2 separate regions of the Homo sapiens genome follow, and region 2 is linked to region 1. The links come from fine-mapping of genetic effects on gene expression. A gene starts in region 1. The other region holds a variant in brackets. All regions are shown on one strand. Distances are from middle to middle.

The links. PIP is the estimated chance that this variant, and not a neighbour inherited with it, causes the effect. A credible set is the group of variants that fine-mapping cannot tell apart.
Region 2: its variant is the best candidate, but not a certain one, in a credible set for the expression of ERP44 in whole blood (INTERVAL, PIP 0.58).

Annotation. Positions count from the first base shown.
Region 1 is chr9:100,097,856-100,100,768 of GRCh38, reverse strand. It overlaps ERP44 (endoplasmic reticulum protein 44), which reads left to right and starts at 1,769. Exons shown (of 12, transcript NM_015051.3): 1 at 1,769-1,985. The coding sequence starts at 1,929. INVS (inversin) reads right to left here and starts at 1,526. Exons shown (of 17, transcript NM_014425.5): 1 at 1,353-1,526. RefSeq lists a silencer at 1,253-1,462 and enhancers at 1,703-1,842, 1,853-1,922.
Region 2 is chr9:100,019,449-100,022,361 of GRCh38, reverse strand. It overlaps ERP44 (endoplasmic reticulum protein 44), which reads left to right. Exons shown (of 12, transcript NM_015051.3): 5 at 136-320; 6 at 1,631-1,746. The region is part of intron 2 of LOC105376176 (a long non-coding RNA gene); the gene reads right to left. Among named protein-coding and RNA genes, the nearest start is that of ERP44, 78 kb to the left of the region's middle. The variant T/C (reference allele first, on the strand shown) is at 1,621.

The DNA of each region.
Region 1 (2,913 bases):
TATATTATATATATTATATGTACATATAATATATATATTATATGTACATATAATATATATATTATATGTACATATATAATATATATATTATATGTACATATATAATATATATATTATATATACATATATAATATATATATTATATATACATATATTATATATATTATATGTACATATATTATATATATTATATATATATACTTTTTACTTCATAATTCTTAGCACTTAGCACAGTAACAGGTATATAGCCAGTACTCAGTAGATGTTTGTTGGATGAAAGGTCACAGGCTGAGTGCTAAGTCCAAAAAGTGAGCAGGATCAAAGTTTAATTTCTTGAATAATGAGTTCATACTTACAAGTCTCTGCTCTTTTAAAATTTCCCATTTCAACTATCTTTGGGCTCTGTCAGGGGCGTGGACAAGAGATAGGAGCACTAGTCTAGGAGTTAGGCCGCCTTGGTAAGAGTATTGGCTCTATCACTGTCTAATTTTGTCACCCTGAGAAAGCCATTATGCAGGGCTCTTTTTTTTTCTTAAGAAAAAATGTATTTTTTGCCCCTTTAAGAAAATAAATCATTTTTTATAGAAAAAAGTCAAAACCACTTTGATAAAGTGCTATAAAATGCAAAGGTGTCATCATCCTTGCCTAATTATACAACAAGCCCGTGTAATAAATGCTCTAATAATTATAACCGTACAAAACTAGAGGTACTGCAGTCACACTCATAGGAAGAGTAATTCTGATTAGGACTAAAGGGTTGGTTGTTCGGGAAGTTCTCAGAGATGGTGACATTTAAGATAGCATTCCAGAGAGAGAACGGGTAAGGCCATTCCAGGCAGCAGGAAAGCTGAAGCAAAGGCGGGAGCAGGGAGAACCACAAAAGCACAGTGTGCCTCCTGGGTACTAAGCAGAGATCGCGTGGGCTCCTGGACCTCACTGAGTGTTTGCAGAAGAAGCCGCAGAGCTACCTGGGGCCAAGTTAGGATCCTCGACTGCTTTGCTAGGGAATTTCGTAATTATACTGGAGGAGCGATCCACGCCTTAGCAGCAATCACTCACACAGTTTTCCAGTTTACGACGTGCTATCCCATCCCGTACCACATCTACTCCTTACAGGAGCCCTCAGAGACAATCAGGGATAAGTCATTGACTCATTCAACTGAGGCCCCGAGTGGTGGCTCTGACTTTATAATGCAGGAATTAGAGCAGAAAGAAGAGGCAGCGGGCGAGGAGGCCAATGATGGAGGCTCAGGCCACAGCCTAGGCCAGGAAGGCCGTGAGTCTGCAGCAGGGGCCAAGGCGGTGCGGACCGAATGATCTGAGCCTCCCCAGCCAGGCCCCCTCCTACTCACCCTCGCCTCCTCCAGGACTGACGTCCCGGGGGCGGCTCCAGGAGGCGCAACCCGGACCGGGCCGCCCCTCCTGCCGGGCCGGTACACTATATCCAGCCAGGTCAGACCCCACGGCGCTGAAGCTAGCCGAGCCCCTCAAAAGGCCGCCCGAGGCTTTCGGCCGCACATCCTTCTGGGAATTGTAGTTCCCATCCTCTGAAGCACCGCGTACACCCGCCCTCCGCCCTTCTATCCCACAGGACCCCGCGCGCAGAGGACTCAGTGGACCGGGGCCGAGAGCCCAATGGGAAAGGAAGTTCTAGATGACGGACGACGTGCGGGGTGAGGCTAGTGCAGGACTACATTTCCCGAAGTGCACCGAGGTGGGCAGGACCCGGAAGTGAGGGTGTGAGAGGCCTCTCTGGAAGTTGTCCCGGGTGTTCGCCGCTGGAGCCCGGGTCGAGAGGACGAGGTGCCGCTGCCTGGAGAATCCTCCGCTGCCGTCGGCTCCCGGAGCCCAGCCCTTTCCTAACCCAACCCAACCTAGCCCAGTCCCAGCCGCCAGCGCCTGTCCCTGTCACGGACCCCAGCGTTACCATGCATCCTGCCGTCTTCCTATCCTTACCCGACCTCAGATGCTCCCTTCTGCTCCTGGTGAGTGAGGGAATGACAGACCCATCGACAAACGCACGAACGGCCTCCGGCCCTCGCCCAGGGGGAACACTGCTACTCCTGCCCCTGCTTTTCCGTCTTTTCCTGCAGTGTTTTGGAGTGCACCCTCCCCCGCTGCCCTCACTCTCGCCTGTCGGCTTCCAGGCGCGGAGTCCCCGAGGCCTGAGAAACCAGTGTCGGGGGAGAATGGGAGAATTAGCCCTGAGGGACTGATACGTAGTCACGGCGTAGGAGCTTCCCCTTCTCCCCGAAGTCCGGGGGTTTCGGTTTCGAGGGCTAGTGGACCTGGTGGTAGCTTGAATCGGAAAAGACCAAGCATAGACCTAGCGTTCCTTCCCACCCTCTCCATTTGGGAAGAGTGTGAGGTCGACAGGTGCTGGGGTTGTGTGACTCTCACTGGGTCTAGATCCCTGAAGCGGTGCCCGGGTTGGCAGATCCCTCTGTTGTGGCTTGATGCGATTGGTTGGGAACCCGGAACTGGAGACTGGTTTGGATTCCACTGGGAGAATAGAGTTTGAAGGGTGGAAGGTGTGGTTACCTGACAATCTCAGCTCAAGGCCTCCCTCAAATCTTATTGCAACGTATTTCCCCATGGAAGCAGATTTCTTCTTCATTGCGCCTTATTTGAATATGCATTCATTCCTAACTGCCTAACCTGCTCAGCATCATCCCATCTTAAAAGAATCTTTCCCTAGTCCCTCTTGCCCCAGAGTACGTCTTGAGTGTGCAGACTAATTGATCCAGGCTTCAGGTCAAATTGAGACAAAAGCGAAGGACTAAACACGTATGGCAAAATGGCTTATATTTAATTGGGCTGTTAATTATAATGTAATATTTGAAAGTACCTTAATTGTAGTAGATTTTTAGAAATTCAGATTTAAACATTAAGAACTACTTTCTTTACAATTTA
Region 2 (2,913 bases), 78 kb after region 1:
TTTTTCTCTCTCACTGAAAAACAATGACTTGAACCAAAAAGTTCTCACTAAGCAATTGTAAGATTTTTGACCATTAGGCAAACAGGCTTGCCCTGACTACATATGAGGGTAAATAATTTTTTTTCATTCTTTTAGCTGACATAGCCCAGAGATACAGGATAAGCAAATACCCAACCCTCAAATTGTTTCGTAATGGGATGATGATGAAGAGAGAATACAGGGGTCAGCGATCAGTGAAAGCATTGGCAGATTACATCAGGCAACAAAAAAGTGACCCCATTCAAGAAATTCGGGACTTAGCAGAAATCACCACTCTTGATGTAAGTTGTAACTTTTGCTAGATTAAACAAACATTCCCTGATTAATGTAAACAAATTCTAATGCAAACAAAAAATCTGGACATTCTCCTATAGTCTATTGCAGTGGATTTGACATACGTATACTTAATGAGTTGAATTTTTTTGAATTAATCTCAAGGCAAATGCTTATGTTATACTGAACTTCTGGATAAAAGATATAGCATGCAGTAAAGCTGTACTAATTTGAATTAATTGAGCACAAAGGAAAGCCTCAATTATAAAGAAATGGAAGTTAAAAGTCAAGTATATACAACCAGAGCTTCTGTATTTTTCTTGTGGAGAGCTTCAGGGTGTCTGCTCTAATTACTTTTGTATGAGCTCTTTTTATGAGTTTTAATGTCCTCTTAAATAGCCTCTTCTTAATAATAAGTTTAGCACACCCCTTTCTTTGTACACTAGGTAGTGTTTTAAAGATAACAAACAACAAAAGCAAAAACAATTGAGTTTGGGCTTTATCACAATCACCAATCATCACTGTCAGGTTTGAGATTTGACTTTACCCTACTTGCAAGCTAAGCTAACCAATTACCATTTCATGGATTCTTTTAGAAGACACAAGACTGCTGGGTCAGAGACAAAGGACTTTATTGCTCACATCACAGCAAGTAGTGTGAGCATGTTTGCATTTGTTTCCTTGCCCTCCAAATCCTATGGAGGCAATACAGAGGGCTCCCCAGATGGATACCTGCACATGCACTGGGTTATGTCACAGGAAAGGGACACTGGGCTTGGGGAACTCACTATTTCAGAGCAAGCAGTAACCCTGCTATTTGTCCTGGCTAGAGGCATTACCTCGTATTTCCGTGTTGCTCGCTACAAGCACAACTCTGAGAAATGGCCTGGATAAAGGATAGTCAGGGTCTTGCATTTTTTGGTGTACCCAGTAAGATGGGTAGGAGTGTGAGAGAGCCATGGAGGAGTCTCTCCAACAGTCACAAGTTATGATTGATACATTGTTTTAACACATTTTAGAATTAGTCCCCTTACTTAGGAAAAGATTGTCACTGATCAAATAGTTATCTATTTCTTAAGAATTTTGAACGCTGGAAGGAAATGTTTATGATTGTATTTATTATAGTTAAGATTGTTTTCAACCCAATGTAATCTTTAACAGTTTTGGACTAGGTGTTAAAAACTAAATATGCATTTATAGTCATACTTCATTTGAACAATGACTGGACTTGTTTAGGTACTAAGATAACGGGTAAATGAAATAACATGTTTATAAAACTATGTATGTTTGCAAAATAATTGCATACTT[T/C]ATTTTACAGCGCAGCAAAAGAAATATCATTGGATATTTTGAGCAAAAGGACTCGGACAACTATAGAGTTTTTGAACGAGTAGCGAATATTTTGCATGATGACTGTGCCTTTCTTTCTGCATTTGGGTAAGTATCTTATTTAAAAGTGTGTTAGTGGGTTGGTTGGCTGCCATGTTAAATTGCTGTTGTATTTGGTCATTTCCTGAAGATGATCTTTCCAAAAATGATCTCAATCCTTTTAAAATCACTAAACAGTCTTTATACCTGTCTCTGAATTCTTTTTAAGGTTTTAAAAGTCTGTTTTTCTTTCTGTAGTATTATCTATTTCAGAATGTGGGCAAGAGGGAAAAAATGGACAAGTTAACAATTAACTAATTCATGCTTTTATTCAACTCATTTACTAACTCTTACCCTATGTCAGACAAAATGCTAATCTGTGGGGTAACCACAGTGAAACAACACACTGTCTTTCTTGTTAAGAAGCATGAGTTTTATCGTCTTCATTCATCTCCATCTCTCCACCACCTTTTTTTATAGATCTTCCCTGTCTCAGGGGAACAATTCTTTCTAAGGCTAACCTCTTCACTGATGTCCTTGTAACTGGTGTCCTTCAAACTCCTCTGGGGCTTTGATCCATCAGTTGTTCCTGCTTGTGTTTTCAACCTGACCCTTTTCAAGAACTGCTTTCCTTTTCTGAAAACACGCTTCTTTCTTTCCTGACCTGCCTCTTCTCTTAAGCTATAATTTCACCTTTCTTTTTCTTTTTATTTTTTTCAAAGATTAGTTTATGCCTGGCTACCTTGATTTTCTTAAATTCTAACCAGTAAAAAACTTAACCTTTTGGAAGCTAACTTTCACCTCCATTGCTCTAATGAAACTTGTCTCTACACAGTCACAAAATGACTTCTTAATTACCAAATCGAGTGGCCTTTTAAACATCTTACTCCTTTTCAATTCCTCTGAAGGGTGTGATGTTCAACTACCTTTTTCTTTTTTTGCTGTGTCAACACTTACATTGAATCCCCCTGGTTTGCTCCCTACCTGTCTGAATTCTGTGACTTTATCTCCCTTTTTTTTTTCTTTTTCTCAAGATGGAATCATTTTTGTGGTTCTGTTCTTGACCCTCTCTCCTCATTGGAGGTTATCTCAACCATCCTTTGACTTCCATGCAGTATTATTTCTCTTTTCATTGGCTCATGACTATTAGGCTTAACTGTAGTAGCTATCTTGAATGGAGCCTGGATGTCTGGCACAATATATCCTCTCCATTTTTTGACCTTTATTGTTTGTCCT